2 separate regions of the Homo sapiens genome follow, and region 1 is linked to region 2. Evidence: fine-mapped expression QTL. Tissue or cell type: whole blood. Region 2 holds a variant in brackets; the other region holds the start of a gene. All regions are shown on one strand. Distances are from middle to middle.

Evidence for each region. PIP is the estimated chance that this variant, and not a neighbour inherited with it, causes the effect.
Region 1: DGKD starts here. The variant in region 2 is fine-mapped to the expression of DGKD in whole blood (TOPMed, PIP 0.99).

Annotation. Positions count from the first base shown.
Region 1 is chr2:233,351,090-233,359,193 of GRCh38, forward strand. It overlaps DGKD (diacylglycerol kinase delta), which reads left to right and starts at 3,405. Exons shown (of 30, transcript NM_152879.3): 1 at 3,405-3,585. The coding sequence starts at 3,430. RefSeq lists enhancers at 2,855-2,914, 3,055-3,104 and a silencer at 3,355-3,594.
Region 2 is chr2:233,441,610-233,449,713 of GRCh38, forward strand. DGKD (diacylglycerol kinase delta) reads left to right here. Exons shown (of 30, transcript NM_152879.3): 10 at 278-386; 11 at 4,014-4,153; 12 at 5,103-5,187; 13 at 6,478-6,572; 14 at 6,667-6,766; 15 at 7,494-7,767. Among named protein-coding and RNA genes, the nearest start is that of DGKD, 91 kb to the left of the region's middle. RefSeq lists enhancers at 1,970-2,079, 2,100-2,149. The variant G/A (reference allele first, on the strand shown) is at 3,990.

The DNA.
Region 1 (8,104 bases), 91 kb before region 2:
TTCTTTGCTTTAAGAATATAATTCTTACCAAGCCTAATCCTCTTTTTTTAAAATACACTTTTTATTTTGAGTAGTTTTAGATCTACAGAAAAGTTGCAAAGATGTTATACTGAGGTCCCCCACACCCAAAACCCCCTATTATTAACCCTTACATGAGTAGGGTACATTTGCCACACTGAGTGACTCAAATGTTGTTTCCAGTAAAATATACTTATTTCTTTCCAACTTTTATTTTAGGTCCAGGGGGTACATGTGCAGGTTTTTTACATGGGTAAATTGCATGTCATGGCGGTTTGGTGTACAGATAGATACTTTTGTCACCCAAGTAATCAGCACAATAATCCCCGATAGGTAGTTCTTCAATCCTCACCCTCCTCCTACCCGGGAATCAATATTGATGCATTATTATTAAACTAAAGCCCCATACTTAATTCTGATGTCCTCAGCTTTTACCTAATGTCCTTTTTCTGTTCTGGGATCCCATCTAGGAACCCACGTGACGTTTAGTCATCATGTCTCCTTGGCTCCTCTTGTCTGTGACAATCTCAGTACTTTCTGGTAATTGCAGATTTCCTCCTCTCCAGCCACGGTTTCTGCTTCTTAACCGTCACGTTCATGCCCTTGCCTCCTTGACTCTAAAATGATGAGTTCTGGGGCCTGGATGTCCCCTGAGCTCCTAACAGGTGTAGGCAACAGCATTTATTATTATTATTATTATTATTATTATTTTTGAGACGGAGTCTCGCTCTGTTGCCCAGGCTGGAGTGCAGTGACACAATCTCGGCTCACTGCAACCTCTGTCTCCGGGGTTCAAGTGATTCTCCTGCCTCAGCCTCCCGAGTAGCTGGAACTACAAGCGCCCGCCACCACGCCAGGCTAATTTTTTGTATTTTTAGTAGAGACGTGGTTTCACCGTGTTAGCCAGGATGGTCTCGATCTCCTGACCTCGTGATCCGCCTGCCTCAGCCTCCCAAAGTGCTGGGATTACAGGCGTGAGCCACCGCGCCCGGCCGGCAACAGCATTTTAATGGCCTCCCTATTTCTAGTCTTCTCTCCTATGGATCATTCTCTGCCCAGACACATGAGTTCCTCTGCTTTCCCAAACCCCCTTGCCAGCTCCAGTGCCCACGGGACTGAAGTCCTTGCCTCAGAGCAGGGCCGGGAGGCTACTCTGCATCCTGGCGCCGCTGCTCACCTCCCTGCCTCCCGCACCCGCCTTGCTACCGGCTTCACCAAAATCCCTCGTCACCCGCTCTGCTCACCTGGTAGGGGTAGTCTCCCCGTTTTTGCGTTTTCCTGGGAAACTCCCTTCATATCTGACCTCTCCATTCCAATCCCAAACCCTGCTCAGGTCACCCGGCTCCCCCGCGGAATGAAGGAATGAACTGTTTCTTCCCCTGTGCGTCCCCGCCCCTCCTCCGCCTTGCACACTCCTCCAGGGTTTTGCCTCTGTGTATCACTCCACATGTAGTTAATTGATAGAAAAGTCCCAACCCTGTGGGGAGGCTGGAGCCCTTTGTGCCTGCATGAGTTCCCTAGGGCTGCCAGAGCACTGCACCATAGGCCGGGCGGCTTCCACCACAGGAATTGACGCTCTCGGTTCTGGTGGCTGGAAGTGCGAGATCACGGTGTCGGCAGGGGGAGTTCCATCGGAGGCCTTTCTCCTTGGCTTGTAGATGCCATCTTCTCCCTGTGTCTTCACATGGGCTGCCCTCTGTGTGTGTCTGTGTCCTCATCTCCTCTTTTTATGAGGACGCCAGTCATACCGGATTAGGGATCACCCCTGTGACCTCATTTTAACTTCATTACCTTTTTAAAAACCTTAACTCCAAATGCAGTCACATGCTGAGGTACTGGGGGTTAGGACTTCAACATATGAATTACGGGAGGACACAGTTCAGCATGCGACTGTGCTGCAGAACTTTCTGGGGGGACGGGGGAAGTGTTTTATATTTGTGCTATCCAGCGTGGCAGCTGCTAAGCCACATGCGGCTACTGAGTCCCTGAAATGTGGCTCCTGTGGCTGAGGAACGGAATGCTGAATTCTAACTAATTGAAATTTAAGTAGCCACATGTGGCTAGTGGCTATAGTACCCTGGGGCACCATGGGGCCTTCGGCCTGTCCCGGACTGTTCCTGCCTTAGGCCTTGTCCTCCTCTGTCCTGGCCGTGAGCCCATGCCCCTGGCCGTGTCCCCATGCCAGATGCCACTCTGCAGCCCCAGGTCACTGCCCAGGGCGGCGCGGCCAGCGAATGCCTATTGGCAGGCGAGGTCTCTAGCGGCAGCCCTTTGACAGGGAGAGGGCACACCTGGGCAGTCCCTTACTGATTTGCCCCTCAGAGCAGGGCAGACAGATGGACAGCATTTCCTCTGGGTGGCACCAAGCCCTGCTCCACCTGGATGGCACCAAAAACTTAGCTGATCTCATCTCCAGCTTCGCTTCCTCCTCTTCTGCCCAGAGCAGCGCTGGACCCCACCCGCCCACCATCCAGCAGCCCCCCTGGGAAACATGGGACTCGTTCTGGTCACCTCTGTCTCCCTCCAGTCGCTGGTCACTCCCCACCTGGATCTCAGTCCACGTCTCTATCTCTCAGCCCCTCGGTAATCCAGGGCGTCCACCTGCCCTGATAACTTCAAAGCCCGGATCACAGGCCCCAGCGTGGTGACCCAGCCCCGCCCAGGGTTAAATCCCTCAAGGGCTTCCTGCTGCCTTCCATCCCCTTATCTGGTTTCCAAAGCCCGCTTCGACCTGCCCGCCCCGAGGCTCATATCTTAATGCCATTTTCCTTGCTCTAAGCACCAGCTTCCCTTTCTTCCCCCGTCTTCGCCCAACACTCGTTCTTTCTTGCCTCCAGGCCTTTGCACAAATCTGGTCTCTGCCTAGAACATGGTTCCCTCTCTAGTCACAACTCCTGCTCACATTTTCCATCTCTCCTTAAGAACCGTTTTCTCCAGGAAGCCTTCCCAGATGGAGCGGTGCATCCCAGCTCTGGCGTCCCGAGGCCCGTCCCAGTACCGGGGTCTCTTTCCAGCACGCGCGCGCGCATTCGAGCTCGCCCCAAACTCGGCCACACAAGGCTGGGCAGGACAGACACAGCCCCAGCCTGCCTGAGGTTACCTACATTCTGATGCGGAAGAGTAGAGATGTTTTAAGAAGTGAATATAGAAACAAGAACACAAACGGCGTTCCAGAAATAACACACAGAAGCCACGGCCCGGAGAGGTGGGCGGGGGGCCCGGGACGCTTCAGGTGGGGGCGGGGAGGGGCCGCGCGGCGCCGTCTGCAGCTGCGCGCATGGCCGGCAGGGGGCGCGGCGGGGAGAGGCGGGAGGCCGCCCCCACCGCCCCCGGCCCGGCCCGCCCTCGGCCCCGCCCCTCCCGCCGGCCCCGCCCCGCCCCCGCCCGCGGTGCGCGCGCTGGCCCGGCAGCATGGCGGCGGCGGCGGGCGCCCCTCCGCCGGGTCCCCCGCAACCGCCTCCGCCGCCGCCGCCCGAGGAGTCGTCCGACAGCGAGCCCGAGGCGGAGCCCGGCTCCCCACAGAAGCTCATCCGCAAGGTGTCCACGTCGGGTCAGATCCGACAGAAGGTGAGCCCGCGGCGCGGCGGCCCGGGCGCGCGCCCCTCACGCCGCGGCAGCCCCGGCCGAGGCCCGTGGCCCTGCCCGAGCGGCCGCCCAGGCCCGGCTCGGCCCGGCCCGGGGTCCCGCGGGCGTCACCGCCCCTGTCGAGCGTGCCCCGCCGCTGTAACGGGCCGGCGCCCCGGGCGGAGCGCGCGGCCCCCGACGGACGGCGGGCGGCTGTGGGGCCGGGCGGGGGGCGCGCAGGTGGGCGCCCCGGGCGCCGCGCGCTGGGCGGGGGGCGCGCGCCGAGTTGGGCCGCGAGGACCCGGAGGAAACTGAGGCCTAGATGCAGGGGACTGCGCTCGTGCCACCGAGCGGGTCCCACGCGGGGGCTCCCGGCTGCGCCCCGCGGGCGTCCGCGGTCCCCAAACCCCGGTTCTGCACGTTTCTCAGGAGCGGTCGGGTGGTGTCCCGCGAGTGCCCTGCAGACTTCCCTGTGGTGCCCTCAGAAGTCCGCTCGGACCCGGGTGCGAGGGATCACCCCTTCACCCCTTCATCCCAAAAGGGAAGGAAGGGATGCGCGTTCAGTGACCGTCTCTCTCAGCAAAGCCGGGACCGCGCACCCGCTTGGCACCCAACTCTCCACGGAGAACTCCTGACGCTAAATGTTAGATAAAGACGCACGTCCTTTTTGCAGGAGGAAAGTTGCACCGTTTGTTTTCCCATTGTGCTTCCTATTGAAAACAGCTTACGGTTTTTGCTCCAGGTGAGCCCGCCCGGTTAGAACACTGCTTCCTCAGGCAGGTGGCTGGACAGGTGGCTGCGAGCAGGCTGGGTCCCTGGGGCAGCTCTGGCAGATCCGGTTGGCACGGACTTTCTCCTCCTGCTGCAGTGCGCTTTTCCTCCGGGGCGGATTAGGTTCAGCCGTTCCCTTCACCGTGGGAGCCTTCTCTTCTGTCAGCCTTTGATACCTGCGATGGGGGAACCTGAGGTCCTAACATGTTACAAACAGGTTTGTTGTGAAGTGCTCCAGTTATTCAGCAAATAGGTACCGAACACCTGCTTTGTTCCGGGTATAACAGTAGCAGTAGTGATGATAATGATAGCAATAGCAAATAACAATTCTTTAATAAGCCTTCTATGTGCCAGGCACTTTCTTGGGTTAGCTTTACAGCACTTGACATGGTTAGTTTATTAGTACTGGTGAGAACCCAATAAGTTGGATGCTATCATCTCCGTCTTTTGGAATTGGAATAGAAATAGAATCAAGGTTAAATGACTTGCCCAGGGTGTCACAGGTCGTAAATGTGGATGTGTGTTGGAACCATGGTCAGGACCGTAAGATGGAAGGCAGTTTCTACACCTAGGGATTCTCAGTCTAGTTGGGAGATGGACGCCTGTGCACCTGACATGACAACATTGTAAGTGCCGCGGAAACTCGGGGCAGAGACCTGCCCTGGGGAGGCAGGAGTGGTTTCCTTTAAGGTGAGATCTTGAGGGATAAAGAATTCACCAGGCTAAGTGGGTAAGAAATGGCCTTCTACATATTTGAACCTTGCGTCTAGAGCTTTAGGCACAACTGCGAAATGATCAGAAGTTGGGCCAGAGGTGGATCACGTTGATTAGACTTATTAGTTGGAAGGGTTGGTTAGGGCTGAATTTCGAAGGGGTGGTCCTTTGAGGGGTTTGCTTTTTGGCCTTGGGCAAGAGGTGGCCACAGAGGATTGTTCAAAGTATGGGGGTGATGGATCAGATGTGCTTTTGGGAAGATCTCCACATAGCCCTAAATGATACTGATAGGAGTTGCTTTCTCCTGTTGCCCAGGCAAGGTACTGACCAGTGTGGGGTAGATCATGTGATTTACAAGGTTGATTAAGATCAAGATTGTGTTGAGAGAGATTTGATTCCTGGGAGATTCCAGTGTTTAGAATTTTGTTGGTTAGGAGGTGTTTTTGCTTTCCTTCTTTTTTCTCCTAAAACAATAGCTGCTATACCAGCTGTTCTGGTTGAGGAGGAGTGATGGGTAGACTGTTAAAAATACACCCCGAGGACTTAGAGTTTCTGAATACAGTCACATCTGCTGTACAGATAGCTTAAGGCTGATTTTTCTTCTGAGTTGTTAAGAGATTGTCAGAATGTGGGAATGCGAGGTTGACTGTATGTAATAGCTCCATTTTTTTTTTTTCCAGCAGATAAGCCATTCACAAAATTCCTCTGGTATCTATGGTACATAATAGAAACATCAAAAATGGTATGGGGTAGCAGTCTGAGTCTAAAAAGAAAAACAGAACTCACCTTAAGTATTTGGAACAGAAGGAATGTAATCTAGGGGAGTGGTCACACAGGTGATGTGAGAACTGAGAATGCAGGCTGCAATGAGGCAAGCCGGAGATGAGGCAACAAGCAGGAAACTGCTGCCACCCCTAAGTTGGAGGGTGAAGGAAGGAGATGGCATTTCAGACTCCAGGGACAGCTGTCACCCACCAAAAACTGGGGTCACAAGGGGTCCATCTGGCAGTGGCTGGAGCCTTGCAAGGGCACAGCTGCTGCTGCGGATGTACTGTTCCCCTCCTGCCTGGGAACCCTGGCCTTGCTGGGGTCACCTCCTCCACAACTTGGACTGGAGCAGAAGGACAAAGAATGGATCTGAGGACAAGCTGGCCCAGGACCAGAACTGTATGTATGTCAGGCTTTTAAAATATTAGTCTAGTGCAAGTCAGAGCTGTCTTAATGAAGAGAAAAACAAAAGAGAATGTCTTAGGGCAGTGCTCCTCAAATTTTAATGTGCAGACACATCTCCTAGGGATCCTGTTAAAATGATGATTATGGTTGAGTAGGTCTAGGGTGGGTGGGGCCTTAGAATGTGCATTTCTTTTTCTTTCTTTCTTTCTTTTTTTTTTTTTTTTTTGAGACAAGGTCTCACTTTGTCACCCAGGCTGGAGTGCAGTGGTGCGATCTCAGCTACGGCAACCTTTGCCTCCTGGGCTTAAGTGATTTTCCTGCCTCAGCCTCCCAAGTAGCTGGGACTACAGGCAAATGCCACCATGCTGGCTAATTTTTGTATTTTGTTGTAGAGATGGAGTTTCCCCATGTTCCCCAGGCTGGTCTCAAACTCCTGAGCTCAAGTAATACACCCACCTCAGCCTCCCAAAGTGCTGGGATTATAAGCTTGAGCCAATGCACCTGGCAGAATATGCATTTCTAACAAGCTCCCAGAAGATGCTGATGCTGCTGGTCCATGGACCAGACTTTGAAAAACAAGACCTTATGGCACACATGTAAAGAGAAGCCTCTCCAAACTTCAAATAATTCTTCAGGTTATAGATCTTTAGCATATTGAAAATTTGATGTGTGCAGATTTGTGATGGCCATTTATCAGTTTAGCATTTCATGCATGTCTGATTTTTTAATATGTTCGAGCTCTTTAGAGTTGAAGCTGTCCACAGCAAAGACATTACTTCATTTGTATTTCCTGACTACAGTACACAGTAATGACTCTGTAGAACTGCATAGCTAGAATGGAAAGAAAGAAAATGGAGCTAACACTCCGACCAGCACATTCACCAGCACATTATAAGGTATTTTGAAATTTCAGTGAAGAACCGTGTAATTCTGCAAAGCTATCAGTTAAAAGAGTTTAATTTATTTAAAAGTTTCTAGAAAGTTAACATTTTTTGGATATGAGCATGAAAGTGCTTGGATTCCTGATTTTAAATTTAAACAAAGCATTTTTTCCATTGTGAAATGAAGACTAGTAAAAATTAGGTAAAGGGTTTAAGTTGTAAAAAACTTAAAAAAATGCACCGCAGTTTTATGAGATATAATTCACATGGGATACAGTTCAGTGGTTGTTAGTATATTCGCTGTTTTGCAACCATCACCACAGTCAATTTTAGAACATTTTCATCACCCCGTTTCCTCTCAACTCCCTCAACCATAGGCAACAAGAATCTACTTTCTGTCTCTGTGTTTGCTGATTCTGGTCATTTTACATAAATGGAATCATACAATATGTGGTCTGGCTTCTTTAACTTAGCATAATATTTTTAAGGTTCATCCATGTCATGGCATGTATCGGTACTTCATTTCTTTCTGTTGCTGGGTAATATTCCATTCTACAGGCACACTGTATTTTATTTATCCATTTATCAGTTGATGGACATTTGGGTTATTTCTACTTTTTGGCTATTCTGGATAATGCTGCTGTGAACATTCATGCACATGTTTTTGTGTGGACATAGGTTTTCATTTATCTTGGCTATACACCTAGGAGTGGAAGTGCTGGGCCATATGGTAATACTACCGGACTATTTTCCAGCTAAAAAGCTGCCGTAACATTTTACATTCCCACCAGCTGTGTATGAGGAGGGTTCCAATTTTTCCACATCCTTGTCAGTAACTGTTATTATCTCTCTTTTGATACTAGCCATCCTAGTAGGGATGAAGTAATGTAAAAGGTTTTTAATGCCATTTTATTGTCGGATTTCAAAGTCTAAACTTTGGTGTCAGATGAAGTCACTTCAGACCCTGCGCTTCTAGTTATGAA
Region 2 (8,104 bases):
GAGCGTGCAGTGGCTCACCAAGCTGAGTGGTCTTGTCGCTGGGTGGGGCGTGGCTGGTGGGAGCAGTTGGCTGGACCCCAGTGCTGCTGTCGTCCCTTTGACAAAGTGGACCCTGAGTGGAGGCGGCTGGTGTCACGTGGCAGGGCCTGTGCGTGCTCTGCCTCTGGTGCAGGTCAGCCATGAGGAGCACAGGTGGCCCCTCAGCCCCGTACTGACAAGCCTGTCATTTGTCCTGTGGAATGGATGTCATTTCACGGCCTTTCTCTTTTCTCTGCAGCTTACGGTTATTCCAGAAGTTTGACACATTCCGGATTCTGGTTTGTGGCGGGGATGGAAGTGTTGGCTGGGTCCTCTCCGAAATCGACAGCCTCAACCTTCATAAACAGGTACCAGGACAGGAGGGAGCCCAGCCAGGAGCAGAGAGGGTGCGGAGGTTAGAGGGAAATCATGCAGTCTCAGCTCCTGTTCATCTCGGAGCACCTGTTCTCAGGCCAGAAACCATTGGTGGTTTTGGGGAGTGTGCAGTTTGGTGGCCAGGGCAGAGAGGGGAGAGCCTGGGCCACCCCCTGGCATTGTGGAGGCCCGGGGGCTCTGGCCATGATGTATGAGGGGGACCTGAAGGGAGCTACGAAAAGAATTGCCCACAAAGGACCCACATGGGGAGCAGGGCTGGGTGGGGCTGTTGCTTTACTGGGTAATTTTTGTCTTGAGGCCTCTTGCTTGTGAGAAGGGGACGGCAGTATACTTGAGTTTCTCAAGTCAGAGTCATGGTTCATTGGACTTAGTTTTTTGTATTAAAATAAAAATAGATTTTCCTGATTGTGTATAAAAATGTTCATATAGTCATTTAATTTCCACACCAAGCCACGGCCTCCCCAGGTGATCAGCCAGTGCCAACATTTTGCTGTCTCTGACCTCTCTTGATCACAGTACATACAATGCACAGTGCACTTGTAATTTAAACGGGCTATTCTGTTACTGCTTTTGTTGTTGTTGTTTTTGTTTTTGTTTTTTTGAGGTGGAGTCTTGCTCTGTTGCTGGGCTGGAGTGCAGTGGTGCGATCTCGGCTCACTACAACCTCTGCCTCCCCGGTTCAAGTGATTCTCCTGCCTCAGCCTCCTAAATAGCTGGGATTACAGGCGCACGCTACCACGCCCAGCTAATTTTTGTATTTTTAGTAGAGACAGGGTTTCTCCATGTTGGCCAGGATGGTCTCGATCTCTTGACCTCATGATCCGCCCACCTTGGCCTCCCAAAGTGCTGGGATTACAGGCATGAGCCACCGCGCCCGGCCTGTTACTGCTTTTAAAAAACCACTAATTAAGATGTTGCAGACACCTTGTGCCTGTGTCTGTAAGTAGGCATCTGTGTGTCGTTTTCCACTGGACACACCCGGGAGCCCAGGGCCAGCTCACCTCCATGTGTGAGCACGGAGATCACTTCCCAGTGGTCTCCTCTCTGAGCGCACCCAAGCTTAAGTATTGAAATGTGCTGACAAACTGCCTTTCCTCAGGGCTGTGCCAGCTTCCATGCCTGATGCCTTTAAAGCTGTCTTTCCCCGTGCACCATCCAAGCTGTTCATCTCTTTAGTTTTTGTCCAGCTAAGTAGACCAAAAAATGTCTGACCTTTACTTCTTTAATTCCTGGTGAAGTTGAACGCCTCCTCAGTTGGTTATGAAGTTTTAAATAAATCACCTGTTCATATTTTTTTTTGCCTCATTTTCTCTTTGAGTATTCACCTTTTTTTCCTTTAAAAATGGGTGTGTGAGGATTATTGTTACATTAACTTCTTATCTGTCACTGCAGATATTTTTTTCCCGGTTTGTCGTTTGTCAGTTCAACATCCTTTTTGGGGGGTGGTCTTTTCTTTCATGATTTTTGTCAACGTCTGTCATATTTGCAGCTGCCTACACCCCAAGATTAAGATTTGCATCTGTATTTTCTTATGTTTATTATGGCCCCATTTTTAAAAAATTCAGTCTTCTGTGTGACGTGGATGTATTTTTCAGTGATTCTGTGGTGCCTACCCAGCTCTGCTCACTTGGTAGTATTTCCAGGTGGGTGGATTTGACAGCTCGGGCCGTGAGGCCAGTGGCTCAGGAGGAGAAGTGGTGCCGCCTGCTGGTGGATTAGCATAGACTACTCTAATTTTTGATTTTGTGTATTACTTGCAAGTTCACTGTCACTAGTTAGGAAGACAGTGGAACCTTGTGGCTGATTTTCATACGTTCAGCCAAGGTCAGCACACATTTCTCTCCCCTGCGTCTCTTTGACACCTGATGTGGTGGCCATGCCTTCGCTGGGCCCCTGCCGCCTCGGGGTTTCTTGTCTTCCTGGCTGCTACTGCTCCATGGTGGCCTCTCCCTCCTTACCCTTCCCTTAACGCTGTGTCCTCAGAGCCTTGCTGGGGCCTCTCCTCCTTCGCTTTTGAACGCTCAGCGACTTGCAGGGCTTCTGCTGTCGTCTCTCTCCTGGGGGCGCCTCAATTGATAGCTGAGCCTTGGGCCTCTCTGGATGTCTCCTAGTGCCTCGAGTTTCCAACACTACACCACGTTCAGCCCCCACCCTGCGTTCCTTTCCTTCGAGTCTGAAAACATCATCCATCTAGATGTCTGAGCCAGGAAATCGGACAGTTGTTCTTGGTTCGTCCGTCTCTTCCTCCTGCCTGTTTCTCACTAATTGTGTCCTCAGTCCTGCCACCCACAGTACCCTGGCCTCTGTCCATCTGCAGCTCACCCAGGCGACCTTTCCCGGGGCATTTCTGCCTGTGCACCCCCCAAGCACGATGCTTCTGGGAAAAGTCCAGACCTTTAAGAGTCCCAGCTTTGCCTCCTGCTTGCTTCTCTGCCTGTCTGCCTCCTGTTTCCTCGCTGTCCTCCTCTTCACTGAGCTCTGCCTTGCCCCCTCCCAGTGGTGTCTCCCTGCCTGGAGCACCATCCATGCCTGCTGTGCGCTGCTCTCCTTTTCCTTTAAGGCTCCAGGAAGCCCTCGCGGAGTCCTCAGACCCTCTGGGCACCCTTCAGCACTGGGTTCTCTCCATCTAGTGTGTCGGCTCCGGTGTCCTGGCCTGCTCGCTCCTGCCTCCCCTACTGCCAAATGTCCCCTTGGTGAGGCAGGACCTTCCCTGGTGTTTGCTGTCCCCACAGGCGGCAGGGCCTCAAGCATGGTCACCTCCACCTGGTGGGCAGAGGGCTGTACGGTGCTGTAGGCTGGACCACGGCAGGTTTCCTGCCTCAAGGACAGTAACGCCTCCCCACACACTCCACCGCAGCCTTCATGGCCCTGGTCACTCTGTTGTCAGAGTCAAAGGCTGGTGAGCTCTGGGCAGTGGGCATTTTAAGAGGCCTCCTAAGCAATGGAATGGTGTAGTGGGATCTCATTGGAGCTCTGAAATGGGAATCCAGGTGGAGGGTGAGGCCTGAGTAATGCATGAGGTCTCTTCCTGGAACAGCAGGCAGGCGGGCAGAGGCTGAGCTCTGGCAAGGCTCCAGGGTAGCCTCCAGACTGAGGATGGTCCTGGCACCTTTTTTGGATAGGATTTAGAGGAGAGAAGTGATACTAGTGATGTTTTTGGAAGAAGAATTTGGCATTAGTGAGTGAGATGCTGTAGTGGATGGAGGGACGGGTGGCGAGGCATCAGAGTGATTCCTTGGGGCTGTGGTCACGGTGGTGAAAATGGGAAGCAGAGGGATTTGGGAGACAGATCAGAGAGGGTGTGAGGGGCTGACCATCAAGATGTGATGACAGCTGAGAGATGGACCTGTGGCTCATCCATTTCTCCCAGAAGCAGCATCTTATCTCAAGGGCAGTCATGTTTCTGTCTCATTGCCAAGGAAAATGCCATCTGTCCCCTCCAGTGGGCTCTGCCTGTAATGTGTAAGCTGCGTGGTTTTAGGTCACGTCCCCACATTGCTAACGTAACCCTCACGGTGGGGGACAAGGAGGGCTGCGGGCTGGGAAGTGGCCCCTGCCCCCAGGTGTTTGCCTGC[G/A]CATCGTCCCCCATGTTTCCTTAGTGTCAGCTGGGAGTGCTGCCGCTCGGCACAGGGAACGACTTGGCCCGAGTACTGGGCTGGGGCTCAGCCTGCGATGACGACACCCAGCTCCCCCAGATCTTGGAGAAGTTGGAGAGAGCCAGCACCAAGATGCTGGACAGGTGAGTGGGGATGTGCTCCGGTGCCGTATGAGGAGACTTTGAGAGACAGGTCCCTTTGACCAGGTGTTCTTAACCTGGGGTCTGTGGAAAACATGGGCCCTCTGAAATTATTTGTAAAGATTTGACCTGAGTATATATTCGGATAGTCTTTGATATTTGGTCAGATTATGACAAGGATAAAAACAAAACAGGTTAAGAACCAGCCATGCCCTAGGATGATCCAGTCTTCCCAGAAGGCCAAGCCTGAGTGTGTCAGGGCCGTGGAGAAGGCAGCTGTGCCATCTTTGGCTGCTTCAGCCCGAGATCTAATACCCATCGGAAGAATGCTCCTTGTCGTTTACTTGAACAGTTTCATTTTCTCATATTCTGTTCCCAGAAGAAGTTTTGGGAAATTATCCTCTAGTGCCTAAAGCCACTGTGACACCTTCCCTGAGTAAGGTACTGTTGTCCCGAGTGACACACTTGGCACTCACTGACCACATGCCTGTGGCACATGGGGTGCTGATGAGATGCCTCCTAGCCTTCCTAGTTGCTCCCAGAAGCCTGGAGTTCTGAGCACAGTTGTGGTTTTGCAATGCCCCCACCATTTCAGGCCTCCTCTGTGTGCCTTGGGGCCTGTGAAATGCTCATCTCACTGGGCCAGCTGGCTGAGCCATTTGCAGCTCTCTTGAGGAGGGTAAATCCATTTCTCCCAGAAGCAGCATCTTATCTCAAGGTAGCCATTTATGGGAGACCTTCCTCTCTTTATGGAGCTGTACTGCCGTTAGTTGTGGAGTGCAGACATTTGTTCTCAGCCAAGTTATGGGACAGAGTCAAGACCAAGGGCCTAAAAATGAAGTCAGAAACGGTGTAAAGATCAAGGCTGCCAGCCGTGAAAGCGGACGGCGCAGGGTTCACCCTTGTGGGCCTGCACGTCTTGCCGCCTGTGCAGCTGACCTTGTGTGTGCAGGTGGAGCGTCATGGCATACGAGGCCAAGCTCCCCCGGCAGGCCTCCTCCTCTACCGTCACCGAAGACTTCAGCGAGGATTCCGAGGTATTGCTGGCCTGTTCTTCACACCCTGCTCGCATGCTGATGTGATCAGAACTGTCCTGTCAGCGGTTTGCATCACCTCCCTTGCAGAGACGCCTCCCCTTTGGTGTTGGGGTGTCACAGTCAGGCCTGCGGAGGCGCAGGGTGAACCCATGGCTGAGAGGATTCTCACTCCCCTTGGCAGGGGCCTTTTGGGCTTTGTGACCCTCTAGGGGCTTCCTGGGGTTGTCATAGGCCCTGCCGGGTGGTGGGGTGGTCCTCCTAATGGCCTTTCCACCCTGTCCGTGCATCTCCTCAGCTGCGCAGTGAGCCCCAAACGGTGCGCGCCCGTTCCCTCCCCCGCCGCGGTGCCCACGTGCCTGGAATGCTCTAGCCGGCTCTGCCGCGGCTCTCCCCTAGCCCCCCGGCTCCTGCCCCGTCCCACCTCTCTGTGGCGTCTGCAGCTGCCCTTCGCTCAGGCTCCTCTAGTCCAGCTGGTGGTTCTTTTCATTTGGTGATTGTTACTGTTGTGTTTAACGCTCCTACAGTTTCCCTCAGAGAACAGACTTTGTCTTTAGTTTCTATTTTGTGCTGGTGCAGTGCTGGGTGGGGTAGTACAAAGAGGTGAGCTTTTGTCAGGGGCTAGGGCAACGGTCAGCAAACAAGGCCTGCAGGCCAGATGTGCCTGGGCCCACGGCCTTGCAAGCGAAGACTGGTTTGTACATTTTTTATTTTTCCTTTTTTTAAAAAAAAATTTTTTTTTTGAGAGGAAGAGTGTGTGGGGGAAGCCCAGAATATTCGCTGTCTGGCCAGTAGTGAAGTTTGCGACCCTGGGGCTGGGTCCTAAGGACAGCAGGGATCCCACAGGGATAGGGCTGCCCTTCTGACAGCCAGAACAGATGGTGGGGGCAGGAGTGTGTGTCCAGATGGGGCTCACAGCCAGGTGGAAACAGCCTCTGCTGCAAACGGACCCAAACCTGGAGCCGACCCGCCAGCATGCCGCTGTCAGGATGAGTAGGGGTCAGGACGGAAGCTCCTAGCACAGGCCGTGCTGGGATCGCAGACTGAAGGAGATTCATTTGCAGTTTGCCTGCAGCTTGACGAAGCTTTTAAAATCTCTCACCTAGCACTAGGTGAGTCCCAGATTAGCGTTAGAAGTGAGTTGAGGCTTGGCTGGGTCAGACAGTGTCTGTTAGGAGAGACTCATCTTTCCCAGCTTGTGCTGGCAAGGAAGTGGCTGACAGAGTCACTGGGACTGTCATGGAGCTTGCTGTCACAGAGACCAACAGTCCTGGCCATTTGGGGTGATTGCAGGTACAGCAGATTCTCTTCTATGAAGACTCGGTTGCAGCCCACCTTTCTAAAATCCTCACCTCGGACCAGCACTCGGTGGTCATCTCCTCGGCCAAGTGAGTGCCTGGTGGCCCTGGGGAGGGCATGGTGCCCTGGCCCCCAGCCTGGAGCTGCCTCTCTAGAAGGGTCTTTCTGTTTTTCTCCCCACAGAGTGCTCTGTGAGACGGTGAAGGACTTCGTGGCACGGGTGGGGAAGGCCTATGAGAAGACGACCGAGAGCTCGGAGGAGTCAGAGGTCATGGCCAAGAAGGTCTGTTCCCGTGCCCTGGGTGGGAGGGGCATTGAGGCAGCGAGAAGCTTGCTCTGTCACCAGCAGAGGGCCGTGACTGCAGGTTGTCCAGGTTCTTGGTGATTTGAACAAAGAATTAGACAAAACGCACAGTAAAGGAAGACAAGAATGAAGCAACAAAGAACGAAGGCAGGGATTTATTGAAAATGAAAGTACACTCCACACTGTGGGAGCTGCCCGAGCAGCGGCTCAAGGGTCCAGACACAGAATCTTCTTGGGTCCAAATACCCCCTAGAAGTATCCCATTGGCCACTTCATGCTCACCTCATGTAAATGAAGTGGTAGCTTGCATTCAGTCTGATTGGTGGCAGAAAGCAGCCAACCAGAGGCTGAAGTGGTTACAAAGGTCACACTCCTGTGCAAACATCTGATTGGTTGCAAAAAGCAACCAATCAGAGGCTAAGGTGAAGTTACAAAGTTGCATTTCTATGCAGACTAAGACTCAGCTCGCAATCAGTATGGTTGGTTGTGGACAGCCAATTTCCCCAATTTCCCACCTGCCAGGGCGGGAAAGGTGGGGATTTGCAAAGGGAGTAGCCTCTGGTCTTTTTGTTACTTAGGCGTGGAGAGTTAGGATTTTCCTTTTGATCGAGTTCTAGGAAGTCTGGGTGAAATGGCCTGAGGTTCCCTGCCTGCAGACCCTGTTCTCCTGCCTCAGCTCTGCATGCCATTTCCTTTCCTTGTTCAGTGCTCTGTCCTGAAAGAGAAGCTGGATTCCCTTCTCAAGACCTTGGACGATGAGTCCCAGGCCTCGTCCTCTCTGCCCAACCCGCCCCCCACCATTGCCGAGGAGGCTGAAGATGGAGATGGGTCGGGCAGCATCTGCGGTTCCACCGGAGACCGCTTGGTGGCATCAGCTTGCCCGGCCCGGCCGCAGATATTCCGGCCTCGAGAACAGCTCATGCTGAGAGCCAACAGCCTGAAGAAAGCAATTCGTCAGATCATAGAACACACAGAAAAAGGTAACTGGCCTTGTGATGAGGAGGGGCTTTCCTCAGGCCAGCACTGGGCATGCCCAGCGTCCCCTGAACACGGAGATGACAGAAGGGTGCATGTTGAGAAAACCTCCACTGCGGCCCTCTCCACCCATGTCCAGGCACCAGACCCCCAACGAGTTCGCTTGCCCTCCTTCCACCCCTCCTCTCACACCCTCAGACCCCTTCATGCTGCCTCCCCTCGACCTCTTTCCTGGCCCTCATTGACTTCACTATAAGCGTCTCACTCCCGTGAGAGCCTTGAGGTCACGGCCTCACACCCGCACACCTGCGTGTCCATGCAGCCGCTCCTCCCGCTTGCAGC